2 linked regions of the Homo sapiens genome follow. The protein of the gene in region 2 purifies or fractionates together with the protein of the main gene of each other region. This does not show direct contact. Each region holds a gene or a part of one and is shown on either strand. Other genes may lie near its edges.

Region 1 (11,308 bases), on a different chromosome or scaffold from region 2:
AAGTAATTAATGTACTTATTCCAACAATACTGGCGTAGTTCAAATACCATTTGAGACAGTACTTTGGGGTTTCCCTTCATTGGGTGCAGACCAAAGGAAGTGGTTAAGCTGGGGGGCAGACTCTCACAGATGGATTACAAAAGTAATGAAATAGTTTTCTTAGTGGGGTGGCATTCGCAAGAACTACCTTAATGTTTTTGGTAACAGCATCATTTACATATAAGTGATGCAGGATAGAAGTTCTGGTGTATGTGATAAATTAAAAACAGCTTGTCACTTTATAGCTACACCTTGGATTTCATTAGATGTGGTAAATCTAATAGTGTGTCAAATGAGTCCTTCTGGAAATCACTTCAGCAGAGAAGTCAAACAGCCTGTAAAAGAGAAGACATGGCAGAATGTGCGAGATTCATCCTTCCAACATTCTCAGGGTTCTCTTGGAGGACAGACCCAGGCCCAAAGACAGAAGTTACCGGGAGGGAGGCTTCAACTCCATCTAAGGAAGACCTTTCTAACAGTTAGAGCTGCTCAACAACTGAATGGACTGCTTGGTGAGGTAGAGTCACTTGGAAGTGTTCAAGGTGGAAAGATCACCCTTGTAGAAGGGACTCCTGCATTTGTTAAGAGGTTAGAGACTGGATGAACCTCAGGTCTCTTTCAATTCTGAGATTCTAGAAAATTCCCTCAGGGAATTCAGAAGAGAATTCCTAAAAGGAAAGAGAAAGCACACATATGTATACTTTTAGAATCTGCTTGATTTTTTTTTTTTTCAAAAGGTACAATAGAAAATGTAGTCCACTGTCATTAAAATGCATATTCACCTTCCTACTACTAATAATTAGGAAGGGTTCATTATGACTTCTTTATATTATAAAGAAAAGATGGGGGATTAGATTTATAATTTCTGTAAATATTTTAGAAAAAATGCTTAAAATCTAGTAGTCAATGCCCTAGAAACTTTATAGATTTGTAGATAATATGCACAGATACAAATACATTATTCATTAAATACAACTCACATCTGTGTTTTATTATACTCTAAAATATACAGGAATCTTGATGTACTGAAAGAGTGCAAGTAAATACAGTATTCAAGCAGTCACTATTTCTATGTACATGCTCATTAATTCTTCAAAAAACCCACAAAATTATCAAATAGATCAAAATACTGTTCTGTGTTTTCACACTTTATATTCAGAAAAACCAGCTGATAATTTACAATGTCATAAAGTTTCCAGTTTCACAATACAAAAAGGATAAAATGAAATTGGGTATCATTTTGTTGCAATTTATAGAACTTTACCCATACCTGTAAGACCCTCAATGTATATGAAATCATTTTCACTGGGAAAGTGACAGTTACAGTAAAAGCAGAACCACACAAATCTTTATTTAAAAGCCGAAATATCAGCCTTCTCTCTCTCTTTTGCTATTTGAAAGGTAGTCTTCAATTTGGCAGGCAACTGCTTCTCTCTCCAAATAGTAACAGGTTACAAACATGCTACTTTAAATATGAATAGGACCTAAGGCTTTAGTATTTTAAATCTTGCCCAATACAGAAATGCCTTTCAAGAGACTTTAGTGATGCTTAATTTATGAACAACAAGGAATTATTTTCCTTTTGATTATTCACTTTTTCAAAACTCATAGATCAGAATAAACAAAAAATCCCCCAACCCATGGTGGGGACACAAAAGTAACATAAGTGACTAAGGTGTGCCATTCATAGAGAGGTTGAAGACTCCATGCCCCAGGACCACTTAGCTGCAATAGGGTGAAATAGTCTACTTTTTGATTTCATGAATTTTTTTCTAGGAAATTCTTTACATTTTCAAACAAAAATAGTACTATTTTAAACCCAAACCATTCAAAACAGGGCAACAGCCTGACCCCAATCCATCTCAATGTCTATGTCACAAGTATTTTCACCCGTATTGCACCCAGTCAGCTGGTTTTTAATTCTAATAGTATAAAAATTGGAAATTTGAAATAGTTCTGTAAAAGAAAAAAATGTAAAAATACATCTGCTTTCTCTCATGGTTTAATACAGCATTGGAAGGCTTTCAGATGTTTTCTTAAAAAAAAAACAAAACCCAAAAAAACTCAACATTTAAAACCAAATCTCAGCTTCATTTCCAGAAATATTGCAGTTTGGTTTAGGTAATGTTTCATTTAATCTACTCCAGTTTCCACAAAATGGCATTTTATTAAAAAAACCTTTCAGTTATTTGGTCCTTTTGCAATTTGCTGTGCACATAATGCCTACTGTACCAAACTTTTATTGCCTTTAAATTTAGTTGTAATTTTATTGATAAAATTTAAATCTAGTGTCTTTATTTCTTCTGTTACAATAGTGTTGCTTGTGTAAGCAGGTTAGAGTGCACAGTGTCCCCAATTGTTCCTGGCACTGCAAAACCAAATTAAACAATTCCACAAAGAATTCTGACATCAATGTGTTTTCCTCAGTCAGGTCTATTTCAAGATTCTAGAAGTTCCTTTTGTAAAACTTGCCTTTAAAACTCTTCCTCCTAATGCCATCAGATCTCTTAACATTGGCTCACTGTGGGATCTTTCCTCTTAGGTTGAATTTCTACGTGAATATCAAAGTGCCTTTTTCCTGAAAAAGCACAGTTTGAAGCTTTACTGTGAGAACTCCCTCCTCCTCAGCCTCTCAGTAGGTCTCAGAATCGGAGTCGTTGAGCTCATCCACGTCAGTGTATAAGTACTCCTGTTCCCCTCCAATGTTATTGAAACTGCAATAGGAGCTAGGTTCATTCCTCATGATGGGCAAAGCTTCAAAGCTGACTGTTTTTGAGGTGTTGGTATAACGGTTAATGGCATTGAATGTTAAGGATGATAAAGGACTACTTGATGAGACAGGCATCATGGTGGCCAAAATGAGAGCCAGGCAATCAGCCACATCCTTATTGGGAGCACAGGCCAAAGCTGGGGTATAGCCTAGAATTAAAGATAAAATTTAAAAATTAAGCATCCTGAGATGTATTTCACCAAAGACAAGGAAATAAGCCTAAAGTACTTCAACTTTAGACATATTTTACATTACTTAGCTTATAATAAATTGCTGTAACCAGCATGATTCGCAAGTTTCTAATAAGTAGAAAAAGAATAGCCATAGAAACCTAGGGTGGAAGGGGATGTTAGACTAGACAACAGAAGAGGAAGCAGGCCCAGAGAAGAATGATTCCCCAAGGTCTCACAACTTATCCGTATCCATCTGAATTCACAGAAAAAACTGGGCTAGAATAAGAAAAACACCACATATCGTGAATATTCTTTCAGGATGGTAGGCAGAGATTTACTGTTAATTTGCAGTTATATCAGTGTCAAGGTAAGAAAAAATAAAAAAATTTAATTTGTAGTTATGTAAGGAAACTTTTTGATGCTAAGAAATCTTAAATGTGTACAGCTTCATGAATCAGCCACAGGGCAGGTGCTCAAAAGATATGTGTTGAATGAATGACACTTAGTTGTCAATTTAACTTTTCTCTTGGGGTCACAGTCTCTTGAAGAAAAACAGTAGACAAACTAAGCAGATGAACTTTAAAAACTACTAAATCAAAACAAATATTTCCTTTGTAAATATTCCCTTTTTTTAAGCGGAAGACAACTGACCTTAGTCGTAAGTTACCACAAAGTGTCAACACAGCAAACCAAGGAGGAAACATTTGGTACCTCAGTTGGTACAAGACTCAGTCTTGAGGACGGAGCGGGAGAGAAGTGATAATAGTGTGATGCCAAGCTTCAATTATACCATATGGAACTTTAATAGTTTTATCACATAACATACATTTGTATAACCACCATACAGATTAAGAAAGAGAACATTACCAGCATACCAGAAGCCTCCATATATCCTCTACCCAGTCGTTACACCTTTCTTCTTCCACAATGGTAACTACTATCCTGACTTATGGGGTAGTAATTTCCTTGCTTTCAACTTGGAGTCATAAACACTATAGTTTTTTTTTTGTTTTTTTTTTTTTGAGACAGAGTCTGCTCGGTCACCCAAGCTGAAGTTCAGTGGTGCAAACTTGGCTCACTGCAACCTTTGCCTCCTGGGTTCAAGTGATTCACCTGCCTCAGCCTCCTGAGTAGCTGGGATTACACGTGTGTGCCACCATGACCAGCTAATTTTTTATATTTTTAGTAGAGATGGGATTTCGCTATGTTGGCCAGGCTGGTCTCAAACTCCTGGCCTCAAGTGATCTGCCTGCCTCGGCCTCCCAAATGCTGGGATTACAGATGTGAACCACCTTACCCAGCCTACAGTTTAGAGTTTTTAAAAAACTTAATATAAATGGAATCATGTAGTATGTATTATTTCATATCTGGCATTTTTGTGTAGCATTATATGAAATTTATCAATGTTGTATGTAACTGTAGTTGGTTCATTTTCATTGTTATACAGTATTTCATTGTGTGATTATACTATGGTTTAGTTATACATTTCAACTACTGGGCATCTGGTTGCTTCCAGTTCTCCCACATATTTTCATCTATGCTATATTGGCCTTGATAAAAAAAGGATTTTTTTTTTTTTTTTTGAGACAGGGTCTTGTTCTGTCACCCAGGCTGGAGTGCAGTATAATGATCATGCTCACTGCACCCTCAACCTCTGGGCTCAAGTGATCCTCCCACCTCAGCCCCCTGACTAGCTCTGACTATAGGCACATGCCATGCCTGGCTAATTTTTAAACTTTTTTGTAGATACAGGGTCTCGCTTTGTTCCCCAGGCTGGTCTCAAACTGCTGGCTTTAAGTGATCTTCCCGCCTCTGCCTCCCAAAGTGCTGGGATTATAGGAGTAAGCCACTGTGCCCAGCCACAAAAAGTAATTTTTCCCCCTTTGTAAAGTTCCCATTTTGTCAAGGGTCAAAGAGAACAACTGATGTCCTTCCAAGTTTGGCAGCAGTGGCTGAAGGCTGTCCGTATTTTTAATTAAATTTTATTTGTTCAAAGTAGCTGGGGGAGTGCTTCACTGCCCACACTTCTTTCAAGGGTTCTTCTAAAGGTGCCTGCTGCTGTTCCTGCTGCTGGCAGGCAGAACAACCCATTACATAGGCCAGGATGCCTTGGATGAGAGCGGGAGTGGGGAAAGAAGCTTGTTTCAGGTGTGTTTTCTAGTCAGAATATGACTAAAAACAGGCTCCTCTCCTCTGCATGGGGGTTATTTTTTGAGACGAAGTCTGGCTCTGTCACCCAGGCTAGAGTGCACTGGCATGATCTCGGCTCACTGCAACTTCTGCCTCCTGGGTTCAAGCGATTCTCTTGCCTCAGCCTCCCAAGTAGCTAGGATTACAGGCACATGCCACCACACCTGGCTAATTTTTGTATTTTTAGTAGAGACGGGGTTTTGCCATGTTGGCGGGGCTGGTCTCGAACTCCTGACCTCAGGTGATCCACTCGCCTTGTGCCTCCCAAAGTGCTAGGACCATAGGCATGGGCCACCATGCCCGGCCAGTTTTATCTCTTAACATGCCACTCTCTTTGCTTAGAAAGTTCCTCCCCCACTTTCTCCTTATCCTTTGGATTTTGGCTTAGCAGTTGCATTTTTTGGGATGCCTTCTCTGATCCTGCAAGAAAGGATTTGAAGACCCTCTTAAGTACTCTCATAGCATTCTATGCTTATTCCAATTAAACTATTTTAAGTGCATCGTTAATAGGCTGTTTGCACTCTTATCTCCATTCAAGGGAGTAGACTATGTCTTATTTTACACTATATCATCAGAAGTTAGTACAGTGCTTGGCATAATCACTCATGCAGCAAATATTCACTGAGCCTCCACTTGCTCAGGCACTATTTAGAACACTAAGAATATATCAGTGAATGCAACTGACAAAGATTTCACTGTTCTTGTGGAGCTTACATTCACTTTAGTGGAGAAGACACAAAATCAACATAACAAAAAAGTACATTATATACAATATGTTAAAAGCTTTATGTAAAAAAAGAGGAAAGAGTGGAGCAGGTTAACAAGGACTGAGAATGCTATGGTAGGGGTATCTAGCAAGTTGTAGTAAAGAATAGTTAGAATATGCTTCATTGAGAAGATGAAACTGGAGCTAAGATTTGAAACAGGTGACGAATTTAGTCATGGGATGTTTGGGGACAGAGTGTTCAGGCAGAGTAAACAGCCAGAATGAAGATCACAATGCATGTATAACCCTGCTATGGAGGGGCTGGCATGGCAGAATGAAGTAGAGAAAGGAGAAGAGTAGGAAATAATATCAGAAAGGTAACAAGGTGGAGGACACATCATGTAGGGCCTAGTAAGGTCATTTTAAGAACTATGAGTGGGGCCAGGTGGAGCACTCTGGGAGGCTGAGGTGGGGGGATTGCTTGAGGCCAGGAGTTCAAGACCGGCCTGGACAATATAGTGAGAGTCTGTCAGCACAAAAAATAAATTAGCTAGGCCTGGTGATGCATACTTATAGTGCTAGCTACTTGGGAGGCTGAGGTGAGAGGTTCTCTTGAGCCCAGGAGTTCAAGGTTACAATCAGCTATGATCTCACCACTGTACTCTAGTCTGGGCAACAGAGTGAGACCCTGCCTCTTCAAAAAAAAAAAAAAAAAAAAAAAAGAAGAAGAACCGAAATTCAAGAGTAACATGTTCTCATATACTTTAAAAGGATCCAGGTCAGTCTGGTAGCAGTAAAGAAAAAAGTGGGCATACTTTAGATCTACTTTAGAGGTGGAGTCAATAGTATATGCTGATGGACTATACATTGAGTATGAGTGAGAGGAATCAAGGATGACTCTAGGGGTTTTGCCCTGAGCCACTGTTAAGAATGAGAATTGTCTTCAATGGAGAGAGCATGATGCTGTGGGGAGAGTAGGTCTGGCAAGGGGAGTGGGAAAGGATCAACAGTTCAGTTCTGCACATTCTAGGTTTAAGCTGTTTATCAGACATCCACATGGATGTGTCAATTAGGCACGTGGATATATAGAGACTGTGAGAAGTCTGGGCTGGAGATATAAATCTGGGAATCCTCAGCATTATAGGTAGTATTTAAAACCAAAGGAACTGATGAGAGCACTAGGGAGTCAATGTAGATAGAGAAAGCAAAAAGAACGAAGAATTGAGTCCTAGAAGAAGAGGGAGAAATTTTGTAAAAGAAATTAAGAAGGAATAACTAGTAATGTAGAAGGAAAACCAAGGAAGAGTGGGGTTCAAAAAGCAGAGTAAAAAAATTTATCAAAGGAAACGATCAGTTGTGCCAAAAGCTGATCTATCAAGTAAAATGAGAGCTAAGTAGTAGTTAACACAGTAGAAGTCATTGGTGGTTTTGATGGGAACAGTTTTGCTATGTGTAGGGGTGAGGGGGAGAAGGCCTGACTATACGGAAATTAAGAGAGAATGGAAGAATGAGGCTGGACGCTGTGGCTCACACCTGTAATCCCAGCAATTTGGGAGGCCAAGGCAGGCAGATCACCTGAGGTCAGGGGTTTGAGACCAGCCTGGCCAATATGGTGAAACTCCGTCTCTACTAAAAATACAAAATTTAGCCAGGCGTCGTGGCAGGTGTCAGTAATCCCAGCTACCTGGGCAGGCTGAGGCATGAGAATCGCTTGAACCCAGGAGGCGGAGGTTGCAGTAAGCCGAGATCATGGCACTGCACTCCAGCCTGGGCAACAGAGCTAGACTCCGTCTCAAAAACAAACAACAACAACAACAACAAAAGAATGGAAGAATGAGAGGAATAACTGCGGACAGCAAGAGAGTAGTTTTGCTGCAAAAGGGGACAGAGAAATATGGCAGTAGCTGGCAGGAGCAGTGAGATTTATAAATTATTTTTTAAGGATGAGGGAACTAATGTTTATATACTGAGAGGAATAATACAGGAAGAGAGCGAAAAATGTTACTCCAGGACACAAAAGAGAACTGTCAAACTGACATTATGAAGTAGGCAAAAGGGGACAGGATCTAGTGCATGAGTAGAAACACTGGCTTTAAATAAGAATATTAGTACTTAACTAGGATCTTGATACATATTTGCTGAAAGAACAAAATCTTTGGCTACTAAAACAACAGAAAGTGGCAAGTATAAACAGTAAATACTAACTTTGCTGTAACAGATGATATAGGAATTCGGAAGTACATCTGTTAGATAACTTTTCCTATTTCTTTTGCCCTTATTCCTTTGCCACAAACTACTCTTCAATATTAACTTTAGCTCTCCTCTTTGACCAATAAAAAATATCCAAGTTTATTTCTCTTCAAATATGGATCAAAAGATAAAAGCTCTAGGTTAAGGGAAGAGAATATAGAACCAACTTACCATTTTCATCTACTGCAAGCACACTTGCTCCTTTTCCCAAAAGTTCCTGAACCACCATTGTTAGCCCATTTCGGGCAGCAACATGCAGAGGTCTAGGGGAAAAAACATGATACATGTACACATATGTGCATGTGCATGCACATACACATACACACCTGGCTGTCAAAGAGCATTTTTGTCAACTTGTGAAGACCAAGAGGTACAAACTCGAGAAACCTAGTCCTAATAACAAAGATGGGGGCAGGGAGAGCAGAACCTCTGTGCAGTGCACTGTCACACCTTGTCAACGTGTAGCTCGGCATCAAGCTCAGCCATAGGTCCCATCGACAGGTCCCTACCTTCACCCAATCCTTTTGTTACTTTTCTTTTCAATGTTTAAAAACATTTTACCATTGAAATTGCATTCCTCCGTTGTTAAGGAATGAGGCTGGTAAAGATACAGACTATACATTAAAAACTGTAAACTGCAGTAGCATAAATTCTAATAGGCTTTGAAAACAGCTTACAAGCATCATGACTAATTTTTGGACCTTCAAGGGATCTGACTAATCCCAGAACGGGCAACAATATTCTAAGATTTTTATCTTTACTAAACCTCAAAATGGAATAGCAAGGGACAATGAGAGACACTGATGTAAGATCTCTGTCAGTCTATCTGGAGGTTGGCTGCTCACATTATTAAAAATTTTGATTCTTTAAGAAACCTTATTGGCTTACAGACACACATAAAGCTTCTTACCTCATTTATTGTTAGTTTCAAGTAACATATTATTACAGTTGATTTCCACAGAATACACAAAATAGTACTACTTTCCTTCAGAAAATTAGGTAGGTGGATTAAGGAAAAAAATACATTATTGTCAATGTTATAATAAAATTTCAGTTCAAAAGCATTTTAAATAATATGGCTTTTAGTTGTGATCATTTTAGAAATGAGTTTTGACAGTTGTAAAACTATTAAAATTGCTTCTATGACTAATGAAACCTATTCCAATAGTCACATGTTTAAAAAAATCCATTTATCATTTTTATAATTATAGGTCACAAAGTTTATACTAGATACTGACAGTACTCACGTTTGCAAGGCTGCGTTGGTTGCATTGATGAGGTTTCTATCTGTTATCTTTTCCAGTATTAACAAGGCACTAGTTTCATGACCCTATAATTGTGGCAGATAAGTTATAAAAACTTGAGCACCATTAAAGATACATTTATACACCCAACAATCTGCAATCCTAGTCCATATATTATGTACAACACCATACATATACCATGAATTTTCCTGGCTAATATCTTAATATTTGCCCAAACACATCTTGGGAGTGAGGGTAGGAGAAGAGGACAAAATTAAGATTAAGGAAAGAGGATAATTATGCTTAGACTTGTGTTCCAAAACTTATTTGGCTTACTGGAGACTTTGATACGCCATGGTGCCTTATAAGTCAATTTTGTTCAAGAAATCTAATACCAGTGATCATTAGAGAGGTTTGGTCCTGAGTTGTTCATTTTAGTGAAGTCAAAAAACTTTTAAGGTCACTGTTAATATTAACAATGGAAACATATTCTTAAGATGTATACATACCTTGCTACAAGCCAAATGGAGGGCAGTATTTTTACTGTTATCTTGTAAAGTCAGTTCTGCACTAGCACTGCTAACCAGCATCTCTGGGAGGAAAAAGTGCATCAATTCTTATGTTTATGAACATGTTTCTTAGATTACCAATAACTCACTGTAGAGAAATGAAGATACAAAGCAAAAAAGTCCCTCTCACAAAAACTTAAGTACAAGAAAAATATTGTAATATATAACATATATATCTTCATATAATTGTATGAGACAATTATATTGTTGTATAAGTCACACACTCTAACAATGGCAATTAACATTTATTTTGTGACTGTGCACTAAATTTTAAATACTGTTTTATATGCTCTGGATTTAAAGTAATTTATTTAACCCTCACAACAACACACCAAGTAGATACTGTTATTTTTCTCATTTTATAAATGAGAAAACTGAGGCATAAGGTCATTTAGCTGAAAGATCTAGGACTCACATTCAGGCAATCCAACTCCACAGCCAGTGTTCTTAACCACTATGTTATAAGGCCATGGTAAAGTAGACTCCTCAATAGTCAGGGCAAACTAAAACATTGTATCCCTAAATGAAAATGTGGATTGCAAACAGGTAAAAGGTTTTAAGTCTTAGGAGTGGTAAGATAACTAGTTGAAGTCAGAAGTCTTGGGATCTAAGTTATACATAAGTGATACACATACTTAGGAAAATACAATTTTAAAGAAGTTTCTTTACCAACTGTATTTGTTTGTCCATTTTCTGCAGCCATCATAAGAGGTGTTTTCCCTGTAGAGTCCACAGAATTGACTTGAGCATTATGGCTGAGCAGCAGCTGTAAACACTCTACATGGTCTGTGAAGGCGGCTGCATGGAGAGGAGTTCTGTGATAAAGAAAAATTGAAATATATGACTAAATTTGAATGTTATATATGCTGGAAAAATATTCTTTAATTTGTGACATGCTGTTTTTAAGGGTTTACATATTAGGCTACAAAAGCACTGCCTGTACACAAACAAATAGGCTCAATGGAGCTTACTAATTTCTCTCATAGAAATTTGTACTTTCAATAATACAGAAGGCTTTAATTAAACTAGAACTAGTATGAAGTAAAGATTAATTACAAAATTGCTAAAATAACATTACATCATTAAAGGAAATTTTGAAAGAAATAAATCCTAATCTGAATACCACCACTTATTACAACTGCTGGACTTTTTTCCAGGCTTTATTCCCATTTAGAAAACTGTTAACTTTGTTAACAATAATCTTTGGGAAACAAATTCGAAAGAGAGGGAAAAATATTTACATGTTAAAATAGTTTAAAGGAGGAAAACTTCCTAAAATCTATAAATAGAAAAACCTTTTATAATGTAAAAATAATTGAGATCTTATAACAATTTATACTCGCAAATATAAAAATCAACTTTTAATA
Region 2 (11,192 bases):
TTTGTGAATAAGCAGCTTAGAAAACGAATAAAATCAGAACCTAAGGTATTTCTGAACCCTTTGTTCACAAAAAGGCCTATGTTTTGTCCAATTTCTTAACAAATAAATGTCATGTACATGCAAAATTAAAACACAGACTAACATTTCAAATAACAGTTCTTAAGAATATTCACATAAAACTTAGGAAGTAATTTGCTACATAAAGCAGTTCCTACACTCTCTTTTAACACATTTGCCAATATACCCAATTATACATAATACTACATGTAATAAGTTTAATATTAGGGCAATTCTCCTTAAAACCCAAATAATAATAAATAGTTTAAAAGTTGATATCTCATTAATGATATTTGGTAATCAGAAGAACTTAGTTACTGGTCACCAGGCAAAGCGATCAAATTGGAGGAGAGCAAGAGACTTGTTGGAGATGTGCCTGAGGGAGTAAGACACTATCTTACAACAACAGGGCTCTTACTCCCTCAGGCACTGCACCAGCCAGCAAAGCATCAAAATACCAGGTTCTTAGGTCACGCTGCTCTCAGATCAGGTGATGCCCTGTGCAACTCACCAATCCTCCCCACCTTGCAGTCAAGAATAATTCCAAAAAATTCCCAAAGCAGAAACTTCCATGACACAGGCCACACTTACACACAGCAAAACATGTAACACGAAGGTATGAAATTACAAGTGAGGAACAATAACCACCAAAATTCTTATTACTTCAGGAGTGGCAGGGGTTGTGGTTAGAAGGCTCATTTTTCTTAGAAAGAGGCAAACATTCCTCTTCGGCCACTCCCCATAAAAGCCTTCAATGGCACAAAATAACATTCAGGAATAGGAAATAGATTAATTACAATATCCCAAATTCAAACATTTTGGCACTTGATATTGGTAAGAAGTGATAACTGAGACCGATTCCATAATGGTTAATTGATGAAGATAACCTAACACCATAAAACTTCACATCTGCCTTAAAAATTAAGAGAAATCTTCCTAGAAATACAGGTCTTATTCAACATATTCAGTTTTAAGAGATAACCCACACTCCTTCAATATAAGAAAACATGTTTCACAAGTAGCAAGGCACCTGAGTTACAATCAGACTACTGAAATACTCATGAGCAAGCCACACCCAAAAAAGCTCAAGAAAATCAGGAGGCCAAAAGCAACCCAGCACCACTGGTTGTCTTAGATTAAGTCATTTTACATTTTCACTTCTGGACTCAAGGATACATTATAGAAGTCCACACGATTTCTCTGGAAATAATCTCCATGTATTGGTATATTTCTATAGCCCAATTCATCTACCCCATCCTTGCTGCATCATTAAAGGCTATTTGACCACTCATATTATGCTCTTATGAACAACAGCTACTTGACAGTGGAAAAAAAAACGTAGACGTAAATTAAAGCCAAACAAACCCTAAAATACCATCAACATTTTTAAATATTAGGAAATACCCTTAAGACCTGTTTTAAAACAAAGGTGATGGACGACACTAGCAGTAGTCAAGAAAGCGTCTGTTCACTTTAACACTCCTCAGTCTGAAAAGAATAATAAGGACAAGATTTACTTCACCTAAAAACTCCTATATAAATATAATCACATTCTGATGTCTGGCAACTCAATTCTAGGAAATTTCTACACACTGAAATATCTGGATTAGGCATTTTTCTTCCAGTTCTCTAGAGAGAATAAGAGTGTATATAGCCAAAACAGATGTCCAAATGACATCAAAACATAAAACCAACACAGAAAACTTCCTCGTTCAATGTGGCAATTCATTATGAGAGAACTACTAACAATTCCACTTGCTAGACTCTTAAGTGTTAAAAATAAAAGGGGGGGACTGTTTTTCATTTTCTATAAATTACATGAGAGCTCACAAGAGAATAATTTTGAATCTTATTAGTACCACATTTTCTTATTAGGAGACGTTAATAATATAAACAACAATTAAAACAACAGTTTTACAAAAAACAATACGAACTTTCCACTAATTCTGAAATAATCCTTTTATCAATTTTCAGATGCAGTTATTTGTATATAACCATTTATACAATTTGTAACTGAATAAACACAATAATGTTATAATAGATACTAAAAAGTTAAGTAAATGTGAACTAGTCAAGTCTTTTTTAATTATAAGATTCTTCATTTAGCTCCCTAAATCTCAAGATGATGAGAAACATGCTTCTATTGTTTTCCTAATAACCCGTCCACTAAAATATAGGTAAAAATCTCAGTAAGGCAATGCCACTAAGATGGGTTTTTACGTAAATGTATTCCATCTCCCTGCCTCAACAGAGATTTCAGGATGTGGCACTTTCATCTGATCCTGTCATATAATAAGAACAGGTAATTTCTCTGATGTCTTTCCAGCAATTCTCAACTGAGGTTCCTCATCTGAATCACCAAACACAGGAAATTATTTCAGTGACTTTTCTCAATTGTTCCAAGAATGATACATAACTAAAACCGTTCTAAATGCACTGGAGCTAAAAGTTAAAATTCATTGCACACTACGGCACAATTGTCTCCAGAAAGCCGGGTGAGAAAGGCTGCTGTAAGTTCCTCAGAAAGTGTCACTGTACTACTAGGCCCCAGTCACCCAACCCCAACAGCACTAAAAGAACTATAATGAGTGCACAAATCTAGAACTTAGATAAGAAAAAAGATAAATGCTTTATCTCCAACTTTAAGCAACTAGGTATTTTTACTTACTAGGAATAGCATGGGGCTCAACTGTCTCTTGCTCTGAATAGAATGCATTTACTTAACAAAATAAACCCACAGAACTATAATGTTTCTCAAAGGGAATTATCAGCTCTTAGAAAATGAATTTTTAGAAATCAGCATATTAAATAAATATTAACTATTAACTTGACAAGGCTTTTCCTATTCACCCTTCTTTAGCAAACTTAAATATTCATCTTCTAATAATTGCTAAATGCAAATTTTCACTTTAAAAAGATAATGATAAACATTAAAAACCAGTTTGCCCTTCATTCTCGCACTAATCACCAATTCTCAGAAACTGCCTTTTATATTCTTCAGTGCGGACTACAGCAACTTCAACTGTTAGGTTAGTTGTGATCAAATCACTTTAAGGACACCAGTAGAGTTCTTTTACTCAAAATCAAAAGCAAATGACTTTTAAAAATAGCCCAATTTTAAGAGGGATGAATATTTTTAAGAAGCAAAAATTACTTTAAAACAAGGTAGCTAATTAAAAGTCAAGCGTCGTTCCAATTGAATTTGCAAAGCGTTACTAAAAAAATGGGAAAAATGAAACATGACATTCCTGTTTTTAATTTATGCTGGCGTGTGTGCTGATAGTACAGAACATGAGAACGGATAAATTACTACGTATTCCACTTTACTAAGTCTCCAAAGTTCCTACGTTTACAAATATATAAGTAAAAGCGGCACAAAAATGTAGGGGATCGTGTTTTCGCTGCTCATCTGTGCTCAGTTGCTAATTTTTCTAATACCAGATACATAATGCGATGAAATGGGAATGCTTATCTTCTATACTTCTATTTATTTTCATAAAGGGGAGAGGGGAGGTGGTCTTGATTCATTTACTATTAGCGTTTTGCAATAAAGTAGATCAGCATAAAACATAACTGAAGAAGTAGGATTCATTTTCCCCAGGACAACGCACACTTCCTCCTGTTTCTGTAGTAAAGTACATCACTTTGCTATTAAAAATGTCCATTTTTCACAACTGACTTTTCCTTAACTCTAGTCAACACTGCTCTTCAAAAGAACCTAGCCAATTATTGTACCTTGAAGACAGATGTGCAAAATTTTTACTTCCTTAAGAAACTTTTCCATTTTTTAAATGCTTTCCAAATTAAGCAGGACTCACATTAACTGTGATCTTAAGTAGCAGTTTAGTGAGGTTTAAAAACAAACTTTTCATTAACGCATTCATCCAATTAAAATGACATAGTAACTGGGACTACTGACACAGATTTCAGGATTACAGCTTTATACTAAAAGTCGGTCCAAACATGGTAACTCAGTGTTCATTTGAGACGCTTTGACTTTTGGCCTTTAAAAACTGTTCCCCACTCGAGTCCCCAGATAGAACTACATTTAGCAACTGGTCTCCTCCTGACTTCCTGGTACTAAAAACCACAACCACAAGGGCTGTTTCGTCGGTTTGTTGTAAAACAACATTTGCTCCAGTCATCTCACTGGAAAATAGACTTTCTCTACTGGGCAGCCGCTGAGGTGAGGGTGCTCAGGATGTTTAAAAACAAAACCACGCGTCTATGCGGTAGCGGCACCGCCGGTGTTAAGCGCCGGGTTTCTTCCAGGATGGAGACCGACGCGGGCTGGTCCGGGAGGCAGCCCCCGGCGCCCCGGCAGAAGGAGAAAAGGAGAAGGGTAAAAATAGCCGGCGGCCACGGCCCACGTGCAGCCGCGGGAGGACCGAGCGCGGGTGCGCGGAGAGGGGTCCGTACCTCCAAACATGTGCGGCGAGAGGTGAGCTGGTAAGGAGCCGATCACCAGGCGCGGCCCGCCGGGGCTCCCGCCCACCGGCCGGTCCCGGCCGCCGCCGCCGTCCTCAGGGCTGCTGTGCACCGAGTCCTGCGAGCCGTACGGGCCGCTGCTGCTGTTCGGGATGCTGAAGGGGGACTGCGCCGCGCGGGCCCCCGACGCCACGCTCCCCACGGCCCCGCCGAGGGAGCGGCTGCGCGGGGCCGCCGGGGCTGCCGGGGCCGCCGCGGCCGCCGCGGCGCCGCCGGAGGCGCTGGGCTGGTGCGCGCTGGGCACCTGAGCCGGGAACCTCCCCGCGGCGGCGGCCCGAGCGCCCCCGCCGCCGCCCGCGGTCCCATTGGCGCCTCCGCTGCTACTGGAAGGTAGATCCGAGCCCGAGTACGCGCGCGTGCGGCCGTTAGCGGCGGCCGGGCCGCTCTGTTTGGCGCCCATGTCCGCCCTGCCCCGGGCCGGGCCCGCGCGCTGCGCCCCGAGAGCCGGGAGGGCGGGAGCGAGCGCGGGAGCTAGAGGGCAGGGCCCAGGCGCCGCGGCCGGCCCAGAGAGGCCCCCGCACGTCCAGGGCCGCCGCCCGGCGTCCAGAGGGGCAGTCGGCGCCCGGCGCGCTCTTCTTGGGGCGGCGGGCGAGGCCGACGGCCTGACGCGGGCGCGGGAGACGAGGAGACGCGGAGAGGAAGGGGTCCCGGCTGCAGGCACCCCTCGCTGGCTCCAGCAGGAAGGGGCGGCTCAAGTGGCCGTGCGGCTGCCGCTGGTTTCGGTTCTGGTGCGCCACGACGGGCCGCTACCGCTCTCTGCTGCCGCGCTCGGCGCCCCCGATCTCGGCACCGCCTCCTCTCGGGCGGCCGCTGCTACCGCCGCCATCCTCCGGCTCCCACGGCGGCTGGCGGCTGAGTGGGAGGCGCCCGCCCAGACTCCGCCGGGGCCACCTTCCCTCCTCCCCCAGCCACCCAGCTGTTATTAACGGAGAAAGAGGAAAAACGGGTGGCGCGCGAGGGGAGAACGAAAAATGGGAGGGAGAGGTGGCGCGCGCTTCCCGGCAACCGTCGCCTCGCTCCCCCTGCGAAGGAGGGGCCGGGCTGGCGGGAGGATCTGGGCCGCGAAGGCGGGGGGTGCGCAGATGGGGAGGAGGTTCCCCGGCCCCGCGCCGGAAGGCCGCGGAGCGGCGCGGCTGCAGGGTGCGCCCGGCCCGTGTGTTTGGGTCGCGCGCGTTGACCCCGCCCCCGCCCCCTCGTGCCGCCAGGCCGATTGGCTCCCGCCGGCCTTGCTCCGCCTCCCCCTTCCGCGACCTGCCTGCCCCTGCTCCGCCTCGCCAAGGTACTGCGGTGTGGTAGGTGCTGCCACTCGTGGACTCGGTGATGGACAGGTCTCTGGCCACGCCCTCCCAGCCAGGGCGCGCCCTTGTCTTCCTCGCGGGGCCTACGCCGATAGGAGGAACGGACACCGGGCGCCAACCAGAAGGCGGCCCCTCCTCCCGCACGTGGCCCGCCGACGCTGTAGGAGCCTGTGTCAGCTGCAGCTTTTCCTGGCAGGGGGCGTGAATGGCTGTGTCCTCTGCCCAGAGCCGTTTGGTTTCGGTGGGTGTTGGTGTTACACACTGATTAAAAAAAAAAACAGAAGCTCAAAAGCCAGCTTGATCTCAGACTTACTCATGAAACACCAACCTGGGAGGAAGCGCAGAGTTGGAAGAACTCGGGATAATCCAGGTTGACCCTCTGTGGTAGGGCAAATACTGTGGTGCCAGGAACGCTGCACCTGACTCACAAAACCTAGAATCTAGGCCCAACACCAAACTAAATTATCTGTAGTGAGCAAATTATTTTACTTTTTTGGACTTTAGGTTTATTTTTGTTTTTGTTTTTGAGACGGAGTCTCGCTCAGTCACCCAGGCTGGAGTGCAATGGTGTGATCTCGGCTCACTGCAACCTCCGCCTCCCGAGTTCGAGCGATTCTCCTGCCTCATCCTCCAGAGTAGCTGGGATTACAGGCACGTGCCACCACGCCTGGCTAATTTTTGTATTTTTAGTAGAGACGGTCTTTCACCATGTTGGCCAGGCTAGTCTTGAACTCCTGTCCTCAAGTGATCCACCTGCCTCGGCCTTCCAAAGTGCTGGGATTACAGGCGTGACGTACCGCACCAGGCCGACTTTAGGTTTCTTACCTGAACTGTTTGTGTTAAATCCTAGGGCACCTGCCTCTTTAAAATCCTATAACTTCTCTAAAATGTAATAAAATTCTCCTCAGTGCCTTCCTCAGTGTTGGTGTGGTCTCTTCACGGCAGAGCAGGGTCTGGATACCCAGGGAACAGCCTGCTCTGAGACTCCCATTATGAAAATGTCTAGTCTCTACTTGAAAATAATAATAGCAAGTGGTGTTTTATAAAACTACAGAAATACTTTGTCATCTTTTCACTATTTGCAATAAGTCATTTATGTAATGATTTTCATCACTCTTAGGGTATGGGAATCAAGTTTTTAAACAAATGGAGAATATATGTATACATATAAAGACGTGTATCTGTGTACACAAACACACATATATACATGGAAAAACAAAGGTACCCAGTGCTTTATATGCAGTATCATGTTAAGATATGGTCATCATTTTGGTTAAGTGCCCTCTCCTTATAGATGTTTCCTGCCACCTCCTCCCCCATCCCAGCATCACAGACTGACTTCAGTGTTCCCACTCAGTGCTGTACAATACCTCCTTCATAGCTCTGATCATGTTATTATTATTATTAGATATCTTGCTTGTCACTACTCAATTGGCTCCATGATAAACTTCATGTCTGTACCTCCAGTGTTTAACACAGTGTCTGGTCTTGCCATGGTGCAATAAATGTTTTGTGAATGAATGAATGAATGAGTGAGTGAATACATGTATCCTCACCAGTTGTACTAAAACGATTCTTTCTTGAATGTCACTCATTAACTTATCATGTTCTTATTCTCCTTGACATTTCGCTTGTGGTGGGTGCCCCTTCCACCTCCTCTCTGGTGAGCCTTGTTTCTTTCCCCACGAAGGTTCTGGAGATAAAATGCTGGCCTTCTATGTTCTTTCCTTGGCCTTCTTTCCTCTCTCCTCACCCCTCTCATCTCTCTCCAGTCACCAGCATGAAGCTGTCAATGTGTGTTATTGTCAACCAAACAGTTCTGACTTCGTTGAAAATGTGTCGCTTATTTATTTATTTATTTATTTGAGACAGAGTCTCGCTCTGTCACCAGGCTGGAGTGCAGTGGTGCGATCTGGGCTCACTGCAACCTCTGCCTCCCAGGTTCAAGCAATTCTCCTGCCTCAGCCTCCAGAGTAGCTGGGTTACAGGCACGTGCCACCATGCCCAGCTCATTTTTTCGTACTTTTAGTAGAGACAGGGTTTCACCATGTTGGCCAGGATGGTCTCTAACTCCAGAACTTGTGATCCACCCGCCTCGGCTTCCCAAAATGCTGGGATTACAGGCGTGAGCCACCATGCCTGGCCATCACGTCTTTAGTATACCTACCAGTTCTTCAAAAATTAAAAGTGCTGCTTCATCCAAATGAGTACACACAGGTATACACACATGTAGAACTGCAACGGGTTTTTGAGATAATACCCATGCTACCTGAAATGCACTCTGCTTTCTATTTGACTTCACTTTTGTAAAATGCTGGTCACTGCTTATTGGATTGATTTTACACCCCCCTATGGGGATGTAATCTGCACTTTGATAAACAGTAGTCTAAATCAGTGCTTTGCAAACTTTAGCACACACAAGGATTACAGGAAAACCTTGTTAAAACAGGCTGTTGGGCCCCACCCTCAATGATTCTCATTCCATAGCTCAGGGTTGGGCCTGGAGAATTTGCATCCTAACAAGCTGCCCAGTGATGTTGCTGCCATCAGACTTCGGACTCTTGTTTGGAGAAGCACTGGTCTAAATGACGCTTTCCTCTACAATCAGAACTGTTGTTTTAATGCCTTCACCACTTATCAAGAGACCAGAGCCCCAGCTCTTTAAAATTTTTCAAATTTGAAGGTTTTAAAATACACTATATTCCTCCTGATGCAGTTCAATGATATTTTGACCAAAGGCTTTGGGGGTGCAAAATTAGTCTGAATGTATTGTTAAAGCACTTCACATTGACAAAATTATTGTCCACAAACTCACACTGGAACAGGTAAGCTACTTCTGGGCTTTCAATAAAAATGCCTGACCAATCAGTTTGTTGTTGTCTAGTTTGAAGTTTAGTTGGGGCAAGCCTCTTCCCTTTGTGTTCCCTTACTCTCCTTTGCATTCCTCTTTCCTCTCTTGGTTTCTCTTTTAAAACTCTGCTGGATCAGACCTTTGATGTGTGGGACAGCAAATTTGCATAGTGACACCCATTAGTCCTCTTGGTCGGGGACCACAGCCTCTCTACAGGGCTGTCCTGCAGCCAGCAGTAGCCCTACACATTTTGCTAAGGTTTTGCCATCCCACTTTTCCCCTTGTTATAGGATTTAAGAGATGGTTATGGCTTTGCTTTTTTTTTTTTTCAAGTAAGTGTTCATACACTACCTCATCTCTACCAAAATAGGACTATATGTATAATTGCCTATTTTTAAATAGGCCTATTTTCCTATTATTTTGCTTTTTAAAGAAACAAATGGACCATCTAAACATTAAAATGAATCTTAATACATCCTACATATGTGTTAATACATCCTACATACACTGTCCAAGATCTTAGTGGTGATTAGAAACTTACATCTTAAATTCAAAATCTTAGTTTGTAGTATTTAGGAGTCACATTGTTGGGTAATTGTTCAGAAAACATCAAAAGTTTATGTAATGTCTTTAACAAATTTTTATCCTCCCTCCCCTGTACTTGTATTAGTTTTTTAATGAGAAGCAAAAGACAAGAGCCAATCATGACAGGATTAAAAGTACATGCCGTGAAGTGGTTGAGCTCAAGCTGGGGTTAGGCCCTGGCTTTGTCTGACACTGGCTGTGGGATTTAGGGCAAGCCACTTAACCTGGCTAAACCTGTTCCTTCTGTAAAACATGGATGATCATATAGCAATACCAGTCTCACAGAGTGGCTATGATTCTCAAAAGATTCATTCTCTATTTGAGAGTACTTTCAAATGTGTTAATAGAGAAACAAATTTTAATCTCAATGTTATTATCCCTAGCAGATTGTAATAATTTCCATATCATCTCTAGCATGTTGTGACATTGTACAGTTTAATATATACTAATACTCAATGAAATTGATTTTACCATTTTGTGAAATTTTAATACATTATTGATGCATAAGGATGTATTGGTAATAATTCGTTAGTAGTAGTTTACTAATAAGTATTTACATCACTGCTATAATAATGATGATAGTATGATATGTCATGACACATCTATATCTTTCCACCATGGGATGGATGGATGTGTGTGTGTGTGTGTGTGTGTGTGTGTGTGTGTGTACATATACTCATAGATAGCTAGATAGATGAAATTTGAAAGGAAATTATCATTAAGATATCAGAGACTACCTATTTGAAATCTCCAATATTTAAACTCTTAAACATTTTTTTTCTTTTGATTCCACAGGGTAGTTAACACTTTGACTAAAGAGTCTTTGGGTCCTAAATAGACTTAAATGTGTCACAAAAGTATTTCATGTTAATTAATCAATGACTGGAGCCCTATGGCTATGTTTAACATAGATTCCAGAATCATTTTCCTTTCTAAAAACAGCTTGAGATATAATGTCAGCACCTGCTAATAAAAATAATTTTTGCTTGCCAAAATGGTATGTAGTATTACTAAGAGCTTAAATATTTATATTGTGTTCTATTCTCAATTAATTCACTTGGGCTTTCAAACGTTGTTTTTTTTTTTATCTGTAAGAGCCCTAATTTAAAAACCCTTAATACCAACCAACCACAACCCATGATGCTTTTACTCCATTATAAAGGAAACTCTCAGATTCCATACATAGTGTTTTGAAAGGAATCCAAGATCTTTACTGGGGACATACTGTTGAAAAGACATAAAATTTAGTGGAAAAATGTATCATGGGGTCGGTACCAAGGGGATTTTCCCAGCCTACGGAAGTGAAGACTAGCTTGGAGAAAAAATAGCCCTCTGCTACATAATGCATGTGGTCCCTCCTCCAGTGCAGATGCACCCTCCAAACTGCCTCCTGTCACTTGCTTAAATCATGAATACTGTACGTGAATGACTGTTGTACATGAATGATTAAAACGTATTATAAGACATTTTCCCTTACCACTTCCTCCCTCAAAGTTAGTCAAAAGCCCCCGTAAAGGCAAGCCCTACATTTTAGGACTAGATTGTTTAAGCCTCCCAAGTACAGGAACTCTATTTCTGCTTTATTTTTAACTCTCCAGAGTGCCTGCTTATAGAGAGCTCAAGGACAATCTATATGCAAGAGACTTTGAGTAACAGCTATGGCTCGCTAAGGACAGGCAGCAGTGATTAATGCATGTCCGGAATTACTACCAACTTAACAGACTGTCGTCACCACATTAAGTTTGTGTGTGAAGTTGGCTGCCTTCTACACTGTTCAGCCAGGGCAAGTTTGTGCATTAGGGGGCCAATTCCCTTTGAGTTGCTATTGAATGATCTACGCCCCCAAGTTAGGCCAGGTTGGAAAGGGTAAGGTCATAGTTGCAGAACTGCCTTTCTTCCACCATGAGAAGATA

What was found.
Region 1: the proteins of ZNRF2 (region 2) and ANKRD28 purify together in Homo sapiens (affinity purification with western blotting; 2 studies listed by BioGRID and IntAct, with this or other methods). This does not show direct contact.

The regions. Positions count from the first base shown.
Region 1 is NC_000003.12:15,667,599-15,678,906, forward strand, and holds part of ANKRD28 (serine/threonine-protein phosphatase 6 regulatory ankyrin repeat subunit A), read right to left. Parts: intron 10,757-11,308; coding exon 10,611-10,756; intron 10,030-10,610; coding exon of another isoform or gene 10,016-10,029; exon of another isoform or gene 9,965-10,015; coding exon 9,882-9,964; intron 9,459-9,881; coding exon 9,376-9,458; coding exon of another isoform or gene 9,372-9,375; intron 8,392-9,371; coding exon 8,300-8,391; intron 5,593-8,299; coding exon of another isoform or gene 5,483-5,592; exon of another isoform or gene 4,036-5,482; coding exon of another isoform or gene 4,012-4,035; exon of another isoform or gene 3,762-4,011; intron 2,959-3,761; coding exon 2,672-2,958; 3' UTR 644-2,671; coding exon of another isoform or gene 431-643; 3' UTR 1-430. UniProt on the Homo sapiens protein: Regulatory subunit of protein phosphatase 6 (PP6) that may be involved in the recognition of phosphoprotein substrates. Involved in the PP6-mediated dephosphorylation of NFKBIE opposing its degradation in response to TNF-alpha.
Region 2 is NC_000007.14:30,279,111-30,290,302, reverse strand, and holds the start of ZNRF2 (E3 ubiquitin-protein ligase ZNRF2), read right to left. Parts: upstream 5,707-11,192; 5' UTR 4,946-5,706; coding exon 4,477-4,945; intron 4,244-4,476; exon of another isoform or gene 4,218-4,243; intron 1,546-4,217; exon of another isoform or gene 1,471-1,545; intron 510-1,470; exon of another isoform or gene 413-509; intron 1-412. UniProt on the Homo sapiens protein: E3 ubiquitin-protein ligase that plays a role in the establishment and maintenance of neuronal transmission and plasticity. Ubiquitinates the Na(+)/K(+) ATPase alpha-1 subunit/ATP1A1 and thereby influences its endocytosis and/or degradation.